Linked DNA regions of Homo sapiens: region 2 is linked to region 1. The links come from fine-mapping of genetic effects on gene expression. Tissue or cell type: whole blood. Region 1 holds a variant in brackets; the other region holds the start of a gene. All regions are shown on one strand. Distances are between the middles of the regions.

What was found.
Region 2: RPRM starts here. The variant in region 1 is fine-mapped to the expression of RPRM in whole blood (INTERVAL, PIP above 0.99).

Annotation. Positions count from the first base shown.
Region 1 is chr2:153,429,635-153,441,336 of GRCh38, reverse strand. It overlaps a transcript of GALNT13 not described here. Among named protein-coding and RNA genes, the nearest start is that of RPRM, 43 kb to the left of the region's middle. The variant G/C (reference allele first, on the strand shown) is at 5,510.
Region 2 is chr2:153,473,445-153,485,146 of GRCh38, reverse strand. RPRM (reprimo, TP53 dependent G2 arrest mediator homolog) reads left to right here and starts at 6,385. Exons shown (of 1, transcript NM_019845.3): 1 at 6,385-7,809. The coding sequence starts at 6,582. The coding sequence ends at 6,911. It also overlaps a transcript of GALNT13 not described here. RefSeq lists a silencer at 6,151-6,350 and enhancers at 6,707-7,210, 7,211-7,714, 7,715-8,218.

The sequences.
Region 1 (11,702 bases):
ACAGCATGGTACTGGTACCAAAACAGATATATAGACCAATGGAACATAATAGAGGTCTCAGTAATAATGCCACACATATACAACCATCTGTTTTTTGACAAACCTGATACAAACAAGCAATGAGGAGAGGATTTCCTATTTAATAAATGTCATTGGGAAAACTGGCCAGCCATATGCAGAAATCTGAAACCGGACCCCTTCCTTACACCTCATACAAAAATTAACTTAAGATAGATTAAAGACTTCAATGCAAAACCTAAAACCATAAAAACCCTAGAAAAGAACCTAGGCAATACCATTCCAGACATGGCCATGGACAAAGACTTCATGACTAAAACACCAAAAGCAATGGCAACAAAAGCCAATATTGACAAATGGGATCTAATTAAACTAAAGAGCTTCTGCACAGCAAAAGAAACTATCATCAGAGTGAAGAGGTAACCTACAGAATCGGAAAATTTTTTGCATTCTATACATCTGACAAAGGGCTAGTATCCAGAAGATACAAAAAACTTAAATTCAAAAGAAAAAAAACAAACAATACCAACAAAAAGTGGGCAAAGGATATGAACAGACACTTGTCAAAAGAAGACATTTATGAGGCCAACAGACATATGAAAAAAAGCATATCATCACTGGTCATTAGATAACTGCAAATCAAAACCACAATGAGATACCATCTCATGCCAGATAGAATGGCGATCATTAAAAAGTTAGGAAAAAACAGATGCTGGAGAGGATGTGGAGAAATAGGAACACTTCTACACTGTTGGTGGGAGTGTGGATTAGTTCAACCATTGTGGAAAACAGTGTGGTGATTCCTCAAGGATCTAGAACCAGAAATACCATTTGACCCAGCAATCCCATTACTGGGTATATACTCAAAGGATTATAAATCATTCAACTATAAAGACACATGCACACATATGTTTATTGCAACACTGTTCACAACAGCAAAGACTTCAAACCAACCCAAATGCCCACCAATGATAGACTGGATAAAGAAAATGTGGCACATATACACGACGGAATACTATGCAGCCATGAAAAAGGATGAGTTCATGTCCTTTGCAGGGACATGGATGAAGCTGGAAATCATCATTCTCAGCAAACTAACACAGGAACAGAAAACAAAACAATGCATGTTCTCACTCATAAGTGGGAGCTGAACAATGAGAACACATGGACACAGGGAGGGGAACATTACCCACTGTGGCCTGTTGGGGGTGGGGGGCTAGGGGAGGGATAGCATTAGGAGAAATACCTATGTAGATGACGGGTTGATGGGTGCAGCAAACCACCATGGCAAGTGTATACTATGTAACAAACCTGCACATCCTGCACAGAACTAAAAGTATGTTTTAAAAAGTATAAGTAGGCCAAGACGGCCGAATAGGAACAGCTCCAGTCTGCAGCTCCCAGCGTGAGCGACACAGAAAACGGGTGATTTCTGCATTTCCAACTGAGGTACCGGGTTCATCTCACTGGGGAGTGCCGGACAGTGGATGCAGGACAGTGGGTGCAGTGCACCATGTGTGAGCCGAAGCAGGGAAAGGCATCGCCTCACCCAGGAAGCGCAACAAGTCAGGGAATTCACTTTCCTAGTCAAAGAAAGGGGTGACTGATGGCACCTGGAAAATTGGGTCACTCCCACCCTAATACTATGCTTTTCCAACAGGCTTAACAAACGGCACACCAGGAGATTATATCCCACACATGGCTGAGATTGTCCTATGCCCACGGAGCCTTCCTCATTGCTAGCACAGCAGTCTGAGATCAAACTGCAAGGTGGGAGCAATGCTGGGGGAGGGGCACCTGCTATTGCCCAGGCTTGAGTAGGTAAACAAAGCAGCCAGGAAGCTCGAACTGGGTGGAGCCCACCACAGCTCAAGGAGGCCTGCCTGCCTCTGTAGACTCCACCTCTGGGGGCAGGGCACAGACAAACAAAAGGCAGCAGTAACCTCTGCAGACGAAAATGTCCCTGTCTGACAGCTTTGAAGAGAGTAGTGGTTCTCCCAGCACGCAGCTGGAGATCTGAGAACAGGCAGACTGCCTCCTCAAGTGGGTCCCTGACACCTGAGGAGCCTAACTGGGAGCCACCCCCAAGTAGGGGCGGCTGACACCTCACACCACCAGGTATTCTTCTGAGACAAAACTTCCAGAGGAACGATCAGGCAGCAGCATTTGCGGTTCACCAATATCTGCTGTTCTGGAGCCACTGCTGCTGATACCCAGGCAAACAGGGTCTGGAGTGGACCTCCAGCAAACTCCAACAGACCTGCAACTGAGGGTCCTGACTGTTAGAAGGAAAACTAACAAACAGAAAGGACATCCACACCAAAAACGCATCTGTACGTCACCATCATCAAAGACCAAAGGTAGATAAAACCACAAAGATGGGGAAAAAACAGAGCAGAAAAACTGGAAACTCAAAAAATCAGAGCGCCTCTCCCCCTCCAAAGGAACACAGCTCCTCACCAGCAACAGAACAAAGCTGGATGGAGAAAGACTTTGATGAGAGAAGAAGGCTTCAGAAGATCAAACTACTCTGAGCTAAAGGAGGAAGTCTGAACCAATGGCAAAGAAGTTAAAAACCTTGAAAAAAAATTAGATGAATGGTAACTAGAATAACCAATGCAGAGAAGTCCTTAAAGGACCTGATGGAGCTGAAAACCATGGCACGAGAACTACGTGATGAATGCACAAGCCTCAGTAGCCAATGCGATCAACTGGAAGAAAGTATATCAGCGATGGAAGAAGAAATGAATGAAATGAAGCAAGAAGAGAAGTTTAGAGAAAAAAGAATAAAAAGAAATGAACAAAGCCTCCAAGAAATATGGGACTATGTGAAAAGACCAAATCTACATCTGATTGGTGTACCTGAAAGTGATGGGGAGAATGGAATCAAGTTGGAAAACACTCTGCAGGATATTATCCAGGAGCACTTCCCCAATCGAGCAAAGCAGGCCAACACTCAAGTTCAGGAAATACAGAAAATGCCACAAAGATAATCCTCGAGAAGAGCAACTCCAAGACACATAATTATCAGATTCACCAAAGTTGAAATGAAGGAAAAAATGTTAAGGACAGCCAGAGAGAAAGGTCAGGTTACCCACAAAGGGAAGTCCATCAGACTAACAGCTGATCTCTCAGCAGAAACTCTACCAGCCAGAAGAGAGTGGGGGCCAATATTCAACATTCTTAAAGAAAAGAATTTTCAACCCAGAATTTCATATCCAGCCAAACTAAGCTTCATAAGTGAAGGACAAATAAAATACTTTACAGACAAGCAAATGCTGAGAGATTTTGTCACCACCAGGCCTGCCCTAAAAGAGCTCCTGAAGGAAGCACTAAACATGGAAAGGAACAACCGCTACCAGCCACTGCAAAAACATGCCAATTGTAAAGACCATCGAGGCTAGGAAGAAACTGCATCAACTAATGAGCAAAATAACTAGCTAACATCATAATGACAGGATCAAATTCACACATAACAATATTAACCTTAAATGTAAATGGGCTAAATGCTCCAATTAAAAGACACAGACTGGTAAATTGGATAAAGAGTCAAGATCCATCAGTGTGCCGTATTCAGGAAACCCATCTCACATGCAGAGACACACATAGGCTCAAAATAAAGGGATGGAGGAAGATCTACCAAGCAAATGGAAAACAAAAAAAAGCAGGGGTTGCAATCCTAGTCTCTGATAAAACAGACTTTAAACCAGCAAAGATCAAAAGAGACAAAGAAGGCCATTACATAATGGTAAAGGGATCAATTCAACAAGAAGAGCTAACTATCCTAAATATATATGCACCCAATACAGGAGCACCCAGATTCATAAAGCAAGTCCTGAGTGACCTACAAAGAGACTTAGACTCCCACACAATAATAGTGGGAGACTTTAACACCCCACTGTCAACATTAGACAGATCAATGAGACAGAAAGTCAACGAGGATATCCAGGAATTGAACTCAGCTCTGCACCAAGTGGACCCAATAGACATCTACAGAACTCTCCACCCAAAATCAACAGAATATACATTTTTTTCAGCACCACACCACACCTATTCCAAAATTGACCACATAGTTGGAAGTAAAGCACTCCTCAGCAAATGCAAAAGAACAGAAATTATAACAAACTGTCTGTCAGACCATAGTGCAATCAAACTAGAACTCAGGATTAAGAAACTCACTCAAAACCACTCAACTACATGGAAACTGAACAACCTGCTCCTGAATGACTACTGGGTACATAACGAAATGAAGGCTAAAATAAAGATGTTCTTTGAAACCAACGAGAACAAAGACACAACATACCAGAATCTCTGGGACACATTCAAAGCAGTATGTAGAGGGAAATTTATAGCACTAAATGCCCACAAGAGAAAGCAGGAAAGATCCAAAATTGACACCCTAACATCACAATTAAAAGAACTACAGAAGCAAGAGCAAACACATTCAAAACCTAGCAGAAGGCAAGAAGTAACTAAGATCAGAGCAGAACTGAAGGAAATAGAGACATGAAAAACCGTTCAAAAAATCAGTGAATCCAGGAGCTGGTTTTTTGAAAAGATCAACAAAATTGATAGACTGTTAGCAAGACTAATAAAGAAAAGAGAGAAGAATCAAATAGACGCAATAAAAAATGATAAAGAGGATATCACCACCGATCCCACAGAAATACAAACTACCATCAGAGAATACTACAAACACCTCTATGCAAATAAACTAGAAAATCTAGAAGAAATGGATAAATTCCTGTACACATACACCCTCCCAAGACTAAACCAGGAAGAAGGTGAATCTCTGAATAGACAAATAACAAGCTCTGAAGTTGAGGCAATAATTAATAGCTTACCAACCAAAAAAAGTCCAGGACCAGATGGATTCACAGCCGAATTCTACCAGAGGTACAAGGAGGAACTGGTACCATTCCTCCTGAAACTCTTCCAATCAATAGAAAAAGAGGGAATCCTCCCTAACTCATTTTATGAGGCCAGCATCATCCTGATACCAAAGTCTGGCAGAAACACAACAAAAAAAGAGAATTTTAGACCAATATCCTTGATGAACATCGATGCAAAAATCCTCAATAAAATACTGGCAAAACGAATCCAGCAGCACATCAAAAAGCTTATCTACCATGATCACGTGGGCTTCATCCCTGGGATGCAAGGCTGGTTCAACAAACGAATATCAATAAACATAATCCAGCATATAAACAGAACCAAACACAAAAACCACATGATTATCTCAATAGATGCAGAAAAGGCCTTTGACAAAATTCAACAGCACTTCATGCTAAAAACTCTCAACAAATTAGGTATTGATGGCACGTATCTCAAAATAATAAGAGCTATCAATGACAAACCCACAGCCAATATCATACTGAATGGGCAAAAACTGGAAGCATTCCCTTTGAAAACTGGCACAAGACAGGGATGCCCTCTCTCACCACTCCTATTCAACATAGTGTTGGAAGTTCTGGCCAGGGCAATCAGGCAG[G/C]AGAAGGAAATAAAGGGTATTCAATTAGGAAAAGAGGAAGTCAAATTGTCCCTGTTTGCAGACGACATGACTGTGTATCTAGAAAACCCCATCATCTCAGCCCAAAATCTCCTTAAGCTGATAAGCAACTTCAGCAGTCTCAGGATACAAAATCAATGTGCAAAAATCACAAGCATTCTTATACACCAATAACAGACAAACAGAGAGCCAAATCATGAGTGAAATCCCATTCACAATTGCTTCAAAGAGAATAAAATACCTAGGAATCCAACTTACAAGGGACGTGAAGGACCTCTTCAAGGAGAACTACAAACCACTGCTCAAGGAAATAAAAGAGGATACAAACAAATGGAAGAACATTCCATGCTCATGGGTAGGAAGAATCAATATTGTGAAAATGGCCATACTGCCCAAGGTAATTTATAGATTCAATGCCATCCCCATCAAGCTACCAATGACTTTCTTCACAGAATTGGAAAAAAACTACTTTAAAGTTCATATGGAACCAAAAAAGAGCCTGCATCGCCAAGTCAATCCTAAGCCAAAAGAACAAAGCTGGAGGCATCACGCTACCTGACTTCAAACTATATTACAAGGCTACAGTAACCAAAACAGCATGGTACTGGTACCAAAGCAGATACAGACCAATGTAACAGAACAGAGCCCTCAGAAATAATGCCGCATATCTACAACTATAAGATCTTTGACAAACCTGACAAAAACAAGAAATGGGGAAAGGATCCCCTATTTAATAAATGGTGCTGAGAAAACTGGCTAGCCATATGTAGAAAGCTGAAACTGGATCCCTTCCTTACACAGTATACAAAAATTAATTCAAGATGGATTAAAGACTTACAGGTTAGACCTAAAACCATAAAAACCCTAGAAGAAAATCTAGGCAATACCATTCAGGACATAGGCATGGGCAAGGACTTCATGTCTAAAACACCAAAAGCAATGGCAACAAAAGACAAAATTGACAAATGGGATCTAATTAAACTAAAGAGCTTCTGCACAGCAAAAGAAACTACCATCAGAGTGAACAGGCAACCTACAAAATGGGAGACAATTTTTGCAACCTACTTATCTGACAAAGGGCTAATATCCAGAATCTACAATGAACTCAAACAAATTTACAAGAAAAAAACCAAACAACCCCATCAAAAAGTGGGCAAAGTATACGAACAGACACTTCTCAAAAGAAGACATTTATGCAGCCAAAAAACACATGAAAAAACTCATCATCACTGGCCATCAGAGAAATGCAAATCAAAACCACAATGAGATACCATCTCACACCAGTTAGAATGGTGATCATTAAAAAGTCAGGAAACAACAGGTGCTGGAGAGGATGTGGAGAAACAGGAACACTTTCACATGGTTGGTGGGACTGTAAACTAGTTCAACCATTGTGGAAGTCGGTGTGGCGATTCCTCAGGGATCTACAACTAGAAAGACCATTTGACCCAGCCATCCCATTACTGGGTATATACCCAAAGGATTATAAATCATGCTGCTATAAAGACACATGCACATGTATGTTTATTGCAGCACTATTCACAATAGCAAAGACTTGGAACCAACCCAAATGTCCAACAATGATAGACTGGATTAAGAAAATGTGGCACATATACACCATGGAATACTATGCAGCCATAAAAAATGATGAGTTTATGTCCTTTGTAGGGACATGGATGAAGCTGGAAACCATCATTCTCAGCAAACTATTGCCAGGACAAAAAACCAAACACCGCATGTTCTCACTCATAGGTGGGAATTGAACAATGAGAACACATGAACACAACAAGGGGAACATCACACACCGGGGACTGTTGTGGGGTGGGGGGAGCAGGGAGGGATAGCATTAGGAGATATACCTAATGCTAAACGACGAGTTAATGGGTGCAGCACACCAACATGGCACATGTATACATATGTAACAAACCTGTACGTGGTGCACATGTACCCTAAAACTTAAAGTATAATAATAATAAAATTAAAAAAAAGTATAAGTAACTATCTGATAAGGCCATTATTTCTAATTTTTTCAAATATATGTTCGGATTTAATGATGTTAAAACTCTTCTCTTTTGAGGGTAAAAAGTTGTTGAAGTACATGGAGAGTTGGTTCAATTTTTTAATTTAAAAGATGAAGAAAATTCCTGCTCCGCTAAACTCTACCTTCTCTAGGTATTTGCTAAGGATTTTTTTTGCAAAGAATATGCTGACTCTGTAATTAAAAAAATGTATTATTAAAGTCTGAAACTTTACTTAGAAGTTATGTGGAATAGTTAATATTTATTTGAAAAAACAAGCATTAATAGGGAATGAGAAAAGAAAACAAAGTTAACGTGTACAGTATTCTATAAGAATAATGACACCAGGATAAGAGGATTGCCAAAGCCTAATTTGGAGTGGAAAATTAATTATCAAAGGTGTTACATATAATTGTCCACTAAATTATACTTGACATTAAATCAAGGGGAAATAAAAACACCTTAAATCATCCCATTGCCACTTCATGTGAACTATGAAAGAATGTGGTAGATCAGAACCTTCTAAGACCACAATTTCTTATTTTTTAAATGAGGGTAGCAAGATTGAATCCTGTTTCAAGTTCTCCTTTGAAATCAATGATGAGACTTTTTATTTTTACAATTTCCTCTCTTCTTAGAATAAATAGTCTCTTCATTTACTCTCACACAAAATTTCTCTAATTATTTCCATATTCTCTTACAGTAAGGCTTGACCTCTGAGCTTGTATTACTAGATAATATAGAGGAGAGTCTCCAAATGCTTGGAGTGTCTATGTATATGCCTGTGTGTGTGTGCACGTGCATGAGTGCGTGTTATGTGTGTTTAGCCCCCAAGAAGAAAAAATAAAAGACACTGCAAAAATTAGGTAGGTCATTAAATCAAGTAGGATTTTATGAAACTATTTTACAAATCATTCTGTTTGATGGACATTTATTATCTTTAAGAGGTAAGTTTAATCTAGGTGAAGTTATTTTCTGCCTTATTTTTAAATCATAATGTTGATTAAATCTTCAATAAAACAACTAAAATGAAACGTTGCACTGATTGCAATGCCCCCCAACCACCTCCCCACCCCCCAGCCAAAAACTCTGCAAAGGGTTTCTGTCAGAAAAACAGTCCAGAAGAAAAGGTGACAACTAGATCAGGTGGATGACAAGCAGCACTGGGGGTGGGGGATGGGGCAGAAGCTTCTGCCAAGCAATAGGTGAAACTTGAAACCCAAGTGTGTATTAATCTGAATCACTTGTCAACTTGTAGGGTCACTGACCTTGAAGAAATGAATTTATTTCCTGGTCAAATACTTTCTGAAAAGGTGCTCACATTTTAATCAATTTTCAGGCCCTCACTAAAGTCCAGATTAATTTGTGCAGCTCGAAAGTTAATTAAACCCCTTCTTCCAACAAAACAGATTCATTCCAAACCATTTGATTCCTGCTTATGACCATTTCTTAAAAATGCTTTTGAAAAAAATCCACTGGTGGTAACAGCAACTGAGGATCCCTGGGAGCCCTGGAGTTGTTGTTCACAGTCTTTGGAATACTATCCTGTGGCTTTTAGATAGGAGTGTTAACAATTTTCAACAACACACAAGTGTACTATTGACCTCTGTAAGAATCCACTCTAGGAAGCAAGGTTGTTGATTTCATGGAAATTGAAAAATCACAAATTCCTTCTCCTTTTTTTTCCCATTTCCAGTTATCTTAATATTTCCCAAACCAGAACACTAAAAAAGAAACAAAAAAATTAATTATTTAAAGATGTTATACAAGAAGAAAAAGTAGTTTGAAGTCTGAGTGTTCCTGGAAGTTTAAAATGTTCTTGCATATTTTTTAAAGCTTCCTAGGAGCTATTACAGCTGCAATACTTGAGGGAGAAATAAATGAAGTATGAATATGTGGTCCAATATAATGTGATTGTCTTCTGGCTGTAAATTCAACTGTCTTCACTGATTGTTGAGAAAGCAATGGTGTTATACATGTAACTGATTACTTTTTATAGCCATTCTGTGTGAAATATATTAGATGTTTAAAAGAAATGGGTGATCCCTTTCACAAAGATCTGAAAAAGGCAAACCCTCTCCATCATTTGACAGATGCAGAAAGCTGGAGAATGGCCTCCAATCCCATGCTAATTGTCTGTCCAGTAGAGCTCTCCTGTGAGGCAAAATGAGGGGCTAGAAGCCTAGAAAGGGAGCAGGAGGTTGAGCAGCACTTGCTGTGTCTTTTGTAATCAGATGAACATGGTCTCGAGAACCAAGGGGCAAAACTACTGCTAACTTCTTTGCTGTTTTTGTGCAATTGTAATTTAAATCAAGCCAAGTGTATACCTAGGTGAGGTTCTGTCCCTGCTCTCATCTGAAAAGCCACTATTGACAAGCTCAATTTTAGGATGGTCATTTATTAGCTGAAAGACATCTACACATGGCATGCCTCACGATCACCTCTATCACACTGAGTTTCAAAGCCAAAATAATGGTGAGCTCAGCAGAAAAAATCTGGAAAGATGCTCAAGGCCTAAGACAAAAAAGAAAGGGCAAAATTAGGTTATTAACTTAAACTAGGCAACTATAACATCAGTAAAAATTGTCCTAGTAAAATACAGTATACCTAATTATGTCAACTTTTTTTGTTTTTTTTTTTTTTTGACAGAGTCTCTCTCTGTTGCCTAGGCTAGAGTGCAGTGGCACAATCTCGGCTCACTGCAACCTCCGCCTCCCAGGTTCAAGTGATTCTCCTGCCTCAGCCTCTAGAGTAGCTGAGATTACAGGCATGTGCCACCATGCCCAGCTAATTTTTGTATTATTAGTAGAGACGGGGTTTCACCATGTTGGCCAGGCTGGTCTCGAACTCCTGACCTTGTGATCCGCCCACCTCAGCCTCCCAAAGTGCTGGAATTACAGGCGTGAGCCACCATGCCTGGCTACGTCAACTTTTAAATATCATTCCTCTTATAATCCTAAATAGTTTAAACCCTATATAGAAATATAAGAGCTGGTGAGGATTTCAATTTAAGCAATTTATTTCCTTTATAAAATTTTAAATGAGTAGCTCAAGCAGGGGTCTTATATCAAAATAACATAACTATCCTCAGGTGAGTTCTCTATACCCAGGATATAAGCAGTTTATTGACATATTCAAATATATGAAGCAACTGTCATGGCAGAGCATCCGAGATCAATGGATACTTAAAGACTCAAGAGATCTGTGATCCCCCTGAAATTATAAGCTAGACTTAGTCTCTCTCTCTCTCTCTCTCTCTCTCTCCCTACCTACCTATCTATTAATACCTATCATTTGCATTTTAGGGGACAGGAAGCCATTAGTATTAATGAAAATCTTAAAAGAATACACCACGTGTAACTTTATAAGTCACATATGTAAAGGGTTACTTGTTACAAAATTAAATGTTATTTTTAAAATATCTAATTATGCTACAACAGCAGATGGTATCATAAAAACTCACAACCTATAACAGTTTAGCAAACTTTCACTAATTTTTGTTTCCCCCACAGAAAAAAAAAAATTAAAATTGGCTATTTATTTTGAAAATTATGCCTCCATTTGTTTCTTAGAAGTCATGTGCTCTAGGGTTCAAAGTATGTACAAATCTTCTCAAACCTCAATAGTCCATGTTGCTATCTCTGTATATAATTACACATTTAATAAGTCCAATCTAAAACTCTCATCACTTAACGGTTGAGGCAAGGCATCTCATACTGTGAAACATAATGATTCACACAGTTCCCATGATTGTAGTTCCCATTTGCAGTCTAAATGCATACAAAGCAATCCCTGTAAGATTTATTATAAATACAACATATTCTTATGTCTATTAGTGACTCACTCTCCTGGTGAGGATACAATTTACATTTTTGATGAATTAAAAAATGATATAAATATTAAGTGCTTACTGCCCTTTTTATATTTAAAATCTTAGTCAAATAGTTTGTCAAAAATAGGTGATGGTGAGGGCAAAATTAAGGAGTATATGTAAAAACATTTGGATGAAGAAGGCAAATGTATAATATTTTATAAATGCTAGATCTCATTATTTTAATAATATAAGGTAAATAAATTTTGTACTTCGAAATACCAGCAGAGGGTAAATTTTGAAAATTAATTATTTTTATTTGAAGTCTGACATTAATTTTGCTCTG
Region 2 (11,702 bases), 44 kb before region 1:
CATAAAGTTTACAAAGCAGGATATACAGTCCTATAAGAAAGTTTTAGAAAATTTGTCCACTACAATACTAACATGCAACTTCAAACAAGGTACCACCTTTTCCCTGACAAACTTGCAACCATAATTTTAAAAATCATAACTCTTGGTGCTCAAGAACAGTCTTTCTGGGGTTATGCAGTAAAAACACAAGTTTATAGGAATCCCCTCAAACTGACCAAAGCAAAATCTCAGTAGATAGACCCAGGAAGCAAGTTTGGGGAACTCTAATTCAATTGACTGGCAATAGGAGGCAGAAACCAGTTATCCCCCATCCCCATCCTAGTTGATCTTAAGGCAAGCTTGGAAAACATTAAACAATGGTTTTCAATCAGGCTAGACTATTGAATCATTTGGAAGATTTTGAGAAATGCTGACATTTGGGCCCTACCTCCAGAAATTCTGATTTAATCATTGTGGGTTTGGTTTGGGTATAAAAAATTTTAAAGCATCTTTAGGTGATTTTAACATGTAGCCAAAGTTGAGAACTAATGCTCTAAAGATTAGGATAAAATGGGTGTTTGCATGCTTTACAAATAGGAGTAAAAATCGGGTACACCTTTTTTGGCAAACAATTTGGTTGCTTTTTGCTTTCTGTAAAAATAATAGTTTTTACTAAAAATTTCAATTTGTAAACTCATCCTAAAAGTGTAATTTAAATATAGGAAACATTATAAGGAAAAATGTTCTTTGTGCATAATTAATTCAATAACAATATTCGAGATCAATATAACTGCTCAGTTATGGTTTAATAAATAAATTATAGTATGTTCACATAATGGAATACTATACTCACTAAAATGTGTATATAAGTTTTTAATGCCATGGACAAATGTAGTATTAAGAAGGAAAAGCAAGGTATAAAATTGTATTTACTATATAGTCATGGCTATGTTCAAATAAGTATAGTAAAAAGAAAAAAATAGTCTACATTACTAGGGTGAGTATCTTTGAGCTATGAGAGTAATACATTTGGGGGGATTATTTTCTAAGTGTTCTGTATTTTCAAAAATGTAAATATTTATCTCAAATCTAATTTAAAATATTTAGAATATTTTATTGTGGTAAAGTACATAAAACATAAAACTATTTTAACAATTTTTATATGTACAATTCAGAGGCATTAAGTAGATTCATATTTTTGTGCAACCATCACCCTATCCATTTCCAGAAACTCTTCATCATTCCAAACTCAAACTCTGTACCCATAACTACTGTTACTCCTCTCCCCAATCCCTAGTAACTATCATGCTGCTTTCTGAATTTGGCTAGTCTAGGTACCTCATTTAAAAGTGAAATCATACCATATTATTCTTTTTTATCTGGCTTATTTCATTTAGCATAATGTCTTCAAGGTTCATACATGTTGTAACATCTATAAGAATTTCAGGGCAGGGCCGGGCGTGGTGGCTCACACCTATAATCCCAGCTCTTTGGGAGGCCAAGGTAGGTGGATCACCTGAGGTCGGGAGTTCAGGACCAGCCTGACCAACATGGATAAACCCCGTCTCTACTAAAAATACAAAATTAGCTGGGCATGGTGCCTCATACCTGTAATCCCAGCTACTCAGGAAGCAGAGGCAGGAGAATTGCTTGAACCCTGGAGGCAGAGGTTGCGGTGAGCTGAGATTGCGCCATTGCACTCCAGCCTGGGCAACAGAGTAAAACTCCGTATCAAAAAAAAAAAAAAAAAAAAAAAAGAATTTTATTCCTTTTTAAGGCGGAATAATATTCCATTTATGTAAATACCACAGTTTGTTTATCACTTCATTTGTTGATGGACGTTTGGGTTGCTTCCACCTTTTGGCCATTGTGAACAATGCTGTTATGAACAGTAATATACATATCCCTGTTTAAGTACATGATTTCAATGTTGAGGGGTATATACCTAGAAGTGGAATTGCTGGATTATGTGGTAATTTTATGTTTAATTTTTTGAGGAACCACCATAATGTTTTTCACAATGGCTGTACCATTTTACATGCCCACCAGCAATGCACGAGGGTTCCAATTTCTCCACATCCTTAGCATTTTTTACTCACCAAGGTCAACCATTTTATATGGAAATCTTTCTAAAATGTTTCACTCACTTTCCAGACTTCTTAGAAGAAAACTATTGAATAAAATTTAATGGCTTTTTTCATTTAATGACTTATGCATATTGATGTCCACCTCAGGAACTATTGCAATATATCTGTATTTGAGATCTTGCTATGTGCTAGGTACTGTTTTCCAGTTGTTTCCATAGAATAGATCAATCCTTTCAAAATTCTGTAAAGTGTTATCCCCATTTAACAGATAAGTAAATGAGGTACATAGAGGATTTAAAAAAAAAAAAAAAGGCTGGGTGCGTTGGCTACGCCTGTAATCCTAGCACTTTGGGAGGCCAAGGCAGGCTGATCACCTGAGGTTAGGGTTTTGAGACAAGCCTGGCCAACATGGCAAAAGCCTGTCTCTACCAAAAATATAAAAAATTAGTCAGGTGTGGTGGTGCATGTCTGTAAGCCCAGCTCCTCAGGAGGCTGAGGCAGGAGAATCGCTTGAACCTGGGAGGCGGAGGTTGCAATGAGCCCAGATCGTGCCACTGCAGTCCAGCCTGGGCAACAGAGCGAGACACCATCTCAAAAAACAAAAACAAAAACAAAAAACATGCCCAAGATTACATGGTTGTAAGTAAAGACAACAGGATTGAAAGCCATGCCTTTATGTAGTCTACTTGCCATTTAGACTGCTTGTCTCTATATTAAATGTCTCCAAACTATTACTTAATACTCTTAGAAAGTCTGTGTATGCTGTTTAACATTCTGTTTTTTCCTTCTGTTGTTACTCTTTGTGGTTGTAAAAGCACCTACCCCCTAGCCATTTCCTCCTCTTCAGAACACATGTTGATACTGATATCCTGTCATTAAGAAAAATAGACAAAGAAGTGAGTTAAAACTGTGAAAAATCAAAGTCGTAGGTTCTGAGAAAGAATTTGGGGAGGGATAATCTAAGGGTGAAATATATGAGCTTAGGTATTTAGCTTTTACGACATTTATTTTGGTGGTTCAATAAACTATTTTGCTTATTTCTGGCTTTTTTCTTATGTTTTGGCTATGGAATCTGCTATTATGAGTGGCTTCTGAATTTGAGTTCTTACTCTTACTCCTGCTTACATTGTGTAATATAATGTAATTTATTTTTTAAAAAGCTTGCCCCAAAGCAATAAATATCCTTTCAATGTTTGATATTTCCTTTTTTAAAATATCTGCTTAATATTTTCATAATGTACAAAAAGAGAAAATCAAAAATCTTTTGGCATTGAGTATCTGGTCCTACTTCAAGGCTATTCAAACTATAAATTACAGCAACCATCCATATCAGCATTCTGTAAAAATACCTTTACAGAATGCATTATAGGCCAAGGATATATTTTCCAGAAAGAGTAGGCAGTGTTTCTGTCCTTGTGTAACATGTATGTTATAAAATACTGGGCCTTTAACTCTCATAAAATCACACCTACCTATTTCCAATGAAGTAGAAGAGGACACTAGTTAAATAAATACAGCAGTTAGTCTTTCTCAGTATCAAAAATCTTTGCTTTAAAGTGAATTACCAGTATGCTCCCTGCATACCATATGTTCATCCATTTTTCTGGAAATTAAGTTTTTCAATGTCAACATTTCTTAAAGATTTCTTTTTTCACACTTGTGAGATTCTCCTAAGAAACAGGTGAATAAAAGGAGAAAAACTGAAATTGTTCACTGAAAATTCAAAAGGAAAAGATAAATAAAAGGGATTCTGTAAAACATAAAGATTTCTCTAGCAACACAGATCCCCTTAAGTCAATTAATGAATGAATAATAAATATAATTTTTGTATGACTAAGTTTATAATTAATTTCCATCTATATGTTCTAAGTAATTTTATTAAACAAAATCAGAGTGGAGGGAAAATAAGGGAAACAATCCCAAGATTGTCTTGAACAAAACCAGAGAGCTGAACTAGCTGATGGGGGAAATACCTATTACCTTGTCAACAATTTTGTGACTAATTAGTCCTTAAACCTGAGAGAAAAGATCCCACCCAAAGATTTGATTAAATATAAAAACTCTCCTGACTCCAAGGTTTGATCATTTTAACACTGACCTGACGAAAACAGCAATACTGTTCCTAGCAATAAATATACTCAAATTCTGATAATGATTCAACTAACACTTTTAGCATCCTTCCATATTGGATCTTACAAATGTACTATAAACTAACTCTTGGTTTTTGTCACATAAAGAAGGGGCTCTCCATTTGCTTACACCTAACTTCTACTGAACACACAGTTCTGTACAACTTGATCCCTGGAGGTGGGCCTCTGTTCTCTGACCTTTTATTTTTCTAAATTTCTATTACTTTTCTCTACCATTCATCTCAGGATGACTTTATATTGCCTTAAATTTGTTGTAATTTTTTCCATGTATACATTACGTTTTATTATTCTTGAGGACTACCCACATTAACTAAGATAGACTGATTGTATGATGAGATTTAAGTAAATTCTTACTTATCAATTATTAATAAATTTCTTCAAAGAAGAAATTGCCGAGAGTGAGGTATTTTTCAATTCTAATTAAATTATGGGAAACTAGAACAATAAGCCAGTGAATTGTGGTAGAAGCCCAAGCCTGAATTTTCAGCTGTTAAACATCCCCCTCAAAATAATAATAGCTATTTTAAAAAATCAAACTTATTGCAGCTGATATACCATAAATATCAAAAAATTGAAAACTCAACCAGAAGGCATTTCATTCTATTTTATGATAGTCATGAAGCAGTGCAAAAACATTTAAGGAACACTCTGAAGATGGAATAAATGATGTTTTAAGAAACAGAAATAAGAGGATTTACCAAGCAAACAGAATGAAATTAAGAGTAGAGTTGAAAATGGCAAGACAGCTACTATTTTTCAGTTTTATTTTATTTTTAATTGACAACTGTACATATTTATGAGGTACAAAGTGATATTTTGATACACATATACATGTGGAATGATCAAATCAGAGTAATTAGCGTACCCATTATCTCAAATTTTTATCAGTTCTTTGTGGTGAGAACATTTAATAGAAAGTAAATGTATTCTATTGGAAGCTCAAGTTACTGGTTTCCAGCTGTTACAGCTGAAAGAAAGAGGGAGGAAGGCAGGGAGTAATGGGGAAAAGGAGGGAGGGGAAAGAAAACAGAAAAGGGGGAGCGGGAACATGCAATATTCTTTCAGAGTTAAGAAACTTAATCTGACAGGTTTATAGAATTTCGTTGGAACCTAGAGCAAAATCACAATGGCTGAAGCGTCAATCAGGCCTATAAAAACATCTGTGTTTAGTTTAAATGACTAAGGGTGAAATACATCAGCTTATGGAAAATGGGGAGGGCTCCCAGTATTTGGCCAGCGTTCTAGGTGATGGATGTTGATGAGCAATTCCCTTCAACAACTGATTTACTGCCAACGGACAAAATGCTGGAAGCACATCCAAAAACTTATCTGCAATTAAAATTACAAGCAAGTGGTCACTCTGTTCACCTCCTTTACCAGAGAGGTGACCCTGCTCCCGGCAACTACCTCCACCCAAGGGCCACAGAAGAACTCCTCCTTCCTCTAACCCTCTTTCCTTGGCCTCAAACCTCACGGTAAAACCTGCCTTGCTCTGTCTCCCAATCGCTTTTGTAAAGGAAGCTGGGTGTAGAGCTCTTCTTTCTCCCTCCCTTCCTTTTTTCTTTCCTTCCTTCCTTTCTTCCTTCCTTCTTCCATGCCTTTCTGTCTTTCCAAATTCATTGCTTTGTAAGAAACATTCTCAGATCACCTCCACTCCACTAGAAATCCAACGCAGGCGAGTCGGAGTCAAGCACAGGCAGTGGGCGGGTGGCCTCAGCCGGCACCATCTGGCACCTGCGATTCATCGCCACTTTCCATTCGCCCAGAGGTCAGGGGGGCAGCAGGCAAAGGACACGCAGAGCTCGTGTGTCCCAGTTCCTCTGAAACTTTCAGCTGACCGCACCCTCCCCCGACAAACTCTTTAATCATCCATCAAGCTAGAAGAGTACAGTGACCTCTGCCTGGCCTTTGGAGTTTGCAAAAGAAGCAAGCAATAAAAAGCAAGACCAGGTTCGCCCCTTTGCTTCCTCCACCTCCCAAGAGCAGCGCGCAGCGCGGCGGTGCGGCCGGAAGGGGCCGCTGTTTGCTCAGCGCAGCCACCCCGCCGCTGCAGCCGCCGCGGCCCGCACCTCCCACGGCCGGGCTGGTCCAGCCCCGCCAAGTTCCAACAGCCCCCCCTCGAGCGAGCGCCGGGAACGAGCACCACCAGGGCTGGAGCGGACGGCTTTAGAAGAGCCTAGCTGCTGCGCGCGTCGGAGAGGCTCCTGGGAAACTCCCACGGCCCAGGGACTTTCGAAAGCAGAGCGAGGAGCCCTCGCACGCGCTAGTCTGCGAGTGAGCGCTCAGCCCGGCACCTGTTCCTCCAGCGCCGCCGCCTTCCCACCCCTCGGACCCGCGCCGCTCGCGGCGCCCGCCCGTTCCTGCGATGAATCCGGCCCTAGGCAACCAGACGGACGTGGCGGGCCTGTTCCTGGCCAACAGCAGCGAGGCGCTGGAGCGAGCCGTGCGCTGCTGCACCCAGGCGTCCGTGGTGACCGACGACGGCTTCGCGGAGGGAGGCCCGGACGAGCGTAGCCTGTACATAATGCGCGTGGTGCAGATCGCGGTCATGTGCGTGCTCTCACTCACCGTGGTCTTCGGCATCTTCTTCCTCGGCTGCAATCTGCTCATCAAGTCCGAGGGCATGATCAACTTCCTCGTGAAGGACCGGAGGCCGTCTAAGGAGGTGGAGGCGGTGGTCGTGGGGCCCTACTGACCCGCCCTCTGCCCCCGCGGCAACCGCTCCCACGCCTGCCCACTTTGCTAGCCCGGCTGTGCCCCTCACTATCAGAGACTGGGCGAAGCAAACCTGTCGGAGTCAATTATTTCTCTCGACTTCGGCCTTTCGGAAAGAAGCGACCGGTTTCTCCCTCGCCCTCTGAAAGTCCTCATGCCTGGCAGTCGGAGGAGAGCGCCCAGACTCTGAACTCAGCAGAAAGTGGCAAGAAGAGGGCGATTAGGGCGCAGAACTTTGGAAGCTGCTACTTACTTGGAATGCGGGGAGACCGACGGTGCGAAGGCCCTTCTCCACCCGCAGGTGGGCCAAGCTCTGGGGGCAGGTGGAGAGGGCGGGCAGGGGAGAGACCCAGCGGCACTGATCGCCTTGTGACCGGAAGAGTGACCTGTTAAAAGCCACGCAGCAGACTCATGGGGTCTCACAAATCCGTGTCCGGGTGCGCTCCCACTCTTCTCCTGCTCCCCCCCTGCCCTGGAGGGGAGGGGCGATAAATACCTTTGATTGTAACGTGCCGTTTTAAGAGGTTTTGTGTTTGTTTGCTTGAATACAAATGTTTGATAAGTCTTTTTCTGCCCCAGTGGCCTGTTTGCCTGCCTGAGGAGTTACAGTTTTGTCATTGTGGGAGAAGGGGTGGGGGGAGGGGGAGCCTGCGAATTTGAACGGGGTGAGTTGTTTCTTTTAGTGCATTTCCCACTGGGTCTTTTGGGAGGCGTCTAGCGTTCCTGCTGGCCCTGGGACAAAGACCCAGAATAGAACTCGTAGCTCGTGACTGCACGGTTTACGCCACAAAAGTGCTCTTGACATCCGTGACACCGTTTTGACTTTTTGTTTTTTTCTTATTTAACATTTCCTTAATAAATGCAACATTTAAGCGTTTTGTTCCTGGCCTCCTGGTGGTCATTCTGCGCTCCCCAGCAGGGGGGAACGGGGCGGCGGTGAGGAGTCTGGCTCCCGGCCAGGGCAATTAACCCTGGAGAGCTGCGATTCAACTTGTGGATCCCCTGGAGGGGCGAGGGTGGGGCCAGACGGAGAGGCCCTGGGATGACTGAGAAGGAGCCCAGCCTCAGGCACAGTAGCCGTCCTGGAGGCAGCATCCTTTGTTTCCTCTTATCGTGAATATTTTATATTTCATTTAGTCTCAGCTCTCAGGTAGGCGAGACGACAGAAGGGCCCCCGCGGGAAGATTACACTTCCGTGCCAGGCTCCGGCGGGAACACAGGATTACACCGCTAATGAAAGGAAGAGACGGCTTGGACAGCCTTTAGGGAGGGCGTCTCTACCCTAACCAACGTCAGCCAGGCGGCTTTGGGATGCTGCCCACGGGTGGGGCCGGGGGGCGGAGGGAAGGGGAATTATAAAATGCGAGGAAAAGTAGCTGCTAAGGTACACAGTGACGTTAGTGACGTTAATGCTCCCTAGGGTAAACCATTGTTACTAAAACATGAGATGCATTACTGTCGTTGTGATATTACTTTTTCTAGCAAAAAGACCACGTTAAAAGATTCAGCCTGTTCTTTGTAATTTAGTATGCCCCAGACCAGGCAAAGGGTTGAGAGGAGTTAGCCGAGGTCCTGAATGTGGGAGATGAGTATTACAACCCCAACTGGGAAGGATATTTGGAGTAGAACTACAGATGGCCGTTGACACATTTAAGGTTCAGAAATTCAACAGTGTTAGAAAGAAACGCCTAAAAACCGTGCCTGTGAAAATAACCCAAAGGATACAATAGCTTCGAGCATAAACTTGACAAAAGGTTTTGAGCAGTTTATTTTTATGCCTGAGACAGGATCCTAAATATTTTCAAGACTATAAAGAATCCACTAGGATGCTATATAGCAATTAAAATTTCAAAGACTTCACAATGGCAGCTATAAGAGTAACTAAAATCAAATAATAATAAAGTGTTCCATTTACTCAGAAAGAAGCACAACTGGTGTAAACAATGTTAACGACTCAAAGATTGGGATCAAAAGTTTTGAGTGCCTTTAATGTCATATCCACTATTAAGTGTCCATTTCGCTCTCAAGTAAACCTTGTTAGAAATCACAACCTAGGATGGTTTTTTGAATTCTAATGGATATCAGGATTGAGAAAAGAGGATTTTGAAGTTTTGCTTGTTGTTCCTGTCTTTTAAACAGGTAAGGGTTTGTTTGCTTGTTTGTTGTTTTGGTATCTGGGCAGGGGGCAGGGTCAAGAGATAGTCAATAGGTAGTCAGTAGGAGTCTTGGAAAGCAATCTACTTTTGCTAACCGACAGGACAAGAAATGGCAATGTTCTATTTTATAGACAGTTTCTGTGGCACCGAGTTAATCTGCTGCCTGCATGTTTCAAAGGGAGACACAAAGCAGAGCAATGGATTCTCTGGGACAAACCAGACACTTAAAATTTAACTCACGCTGTGGCTGCAACATCCTCTGAGGGTCCCTTCTTCTGGAAGATTTATTAGCTCACCTGTGAATCCAGTACTCTGGTAGAATTCGATTTGGGATAAAAAAACAAATCAGCTAGAGTGTAGAAATCTTGCATTTTACTCTGCTGTGTACGGGCACATGCTTAGAGTTTCAGACACGCGGAGGCTGAAGGAGGGGTCAAACCTACAGGTCAATTTTAAATTGTATAGAACACAGGTTTTCATTTAAAACAAAAGTCCTGAAAGTCCTGAAAGTTGAGAGAGGAGCCAAGGTTGAAGACCTCTATCTTCTCTATCTTGTTCCTCTTAGTATTTCTTCACATCTCTTTCCTCTTCCCTGCATCTCAAAAGCAAAATGCAGTTTCTCTTTATCTCAACTATCCACATTTATTCTCTCACCCCCAGAAATTGTGCATGAAACAAGCCAAAACCTGCAAAATGTAGTCCTTAGATACAAAAGGTATGTGAACACAGCTTTGTAATCTATGATCTATGCACTACAGGGAAATGCACAGTCTGCAATGCACATAGCCCTGGAGACTACTTCCTGCCAACAACACTTCTCTCCAGCCCTTAGATCCATTTGTTACTTAGAGAGATGCCAAGTAGTTCTGGTTTTTATAGATGAGGCAATGTGTGCAAGAAGCTTTTTACACTCTCTATTCCCCGATGGCCACAGAGCAACCACTTTCTGGGGCCACACCACTCCCTCTTTCACTCTGCCTTTGACTCTCTTTGTCCCTCATTCTAACAACTGCTTTAAATGAAACATTTTAATCCTGCTCAGAATTTATGGAGTGTCGGTCCTTTCCCAGAGACATTCTCTAAGAAAAAAAGGTTTTGAAAGCCATTGTCTGTGTTTCACCTAAGAAAACAATGTCAGCCTTAAGAGACCAGAAGTTTAGATACATAAATTTAACAGGCAGGTTCTACCATGCCACACTGAAGTCCACCATTTGGTCAGTAATTAGTGGGAGTCCCTGAGAGACAGAGACAGATTCCTCTAAAAGCTTGCTTGATCTGACATGGCCCAGGGGGACTTATCTGATATTTCCTGAAGCCCTTCTGGAAATACAGCAAATGCAGGGAGAAGTTTTCATGAAACACAGCTGGTGGATTAGTGGGATCTCAGGCTGGGCAGACAGCTAGTGATACCTCTTAGCTTAATTGGGTGGCCTCTGTATAAGTAGCTTAACCAATTGTTGATAAGTGTTCTTAAGATTGTTGATACGAATCTCCCCACTCTCTCTGAAAATGTAGCAAGAGCTTGAGTGCTGGACAGCTTTAAGGAAGTGAAAGCAGAGGTCACACTACTCTGTCAAGTCTGAGATCACACTAGTTCCTGGTAGATGGTCCATGATTTCTGATTTCCAAGCCATCCTGGCTTCTCACTGGATGCAAGTCAATCCTGCTACTGTGTCTTCCTATACTAACTCTGAATTAGGAAGGGAAAGACACACTGGGCTGAGATTTTAGAAATTTTGGTTCTGGTCACTAAGCAGCTGAATGGCCTGATCCCTAAAATAAGGAAGAGGGGTTCTAAAGAACCTTCCAATTCTATGATTCCATTGAATTAATTGGTTTAACGTGTTCTCTCTTAAGATGTTTCATAAATCTCTTAATTATGTGTCTTAAAAATATATTTTATCTTTCCAGTCTTGATCTTTTGTGTAGATGTTTTTCTCACAAAAGACAAGTGCTCCTCTACTGGAAATAAGTTATTTACAATAATCAAAGCAAAATTTCAGACACCTAGCCAGGCCAGAGTAGATGACAGTTTTTAACCTGATCGATTACGCATGATCTCACCAGCACCTTAAATTTCCAGGTCTCTGCGTTCTCAAAGGACAAAGCCATGAAAGTAAAGCCCATTGTACTGGGGAGTAAGCAATTCTTCTAGGTACGCATTCAGACTAATATGCACTGTTGTTTATAGAAACTACTAGGGTGTTTGAAGACTCTTTAACATCCACTTTTTCTCCCTAAAGCATTTTTCCTTTTGAGTTTCTGCAACAGCACACAGCACCTGTTCCACATGCAGTTTAGAGCCTTCCTTAACCCTGGCTTATTTTACTTCTCACTTTGGGGGTTACAATGACAGGAAAGATTCCAGGGTTCGGTTTGTTCTGTAAGACTCAAACCTAATTTGAAAGCCTGTGGAAGCAGCAAGTCTGCAGCAATCCTCCAAACAGGAATCAACAAATATTTTTTCTACCTGTCAAATCCCATGTAGACCTATGCACAATAGCTCAAATGGGATATGTTTTAAAAGCAGCTGCCTCAGTAGTAATTGTTTCCTAATGTCTGAATTTAAATGCTCAATAGTAAGTTGTTTCCATGGCCAATCTCACTTTGTTCTC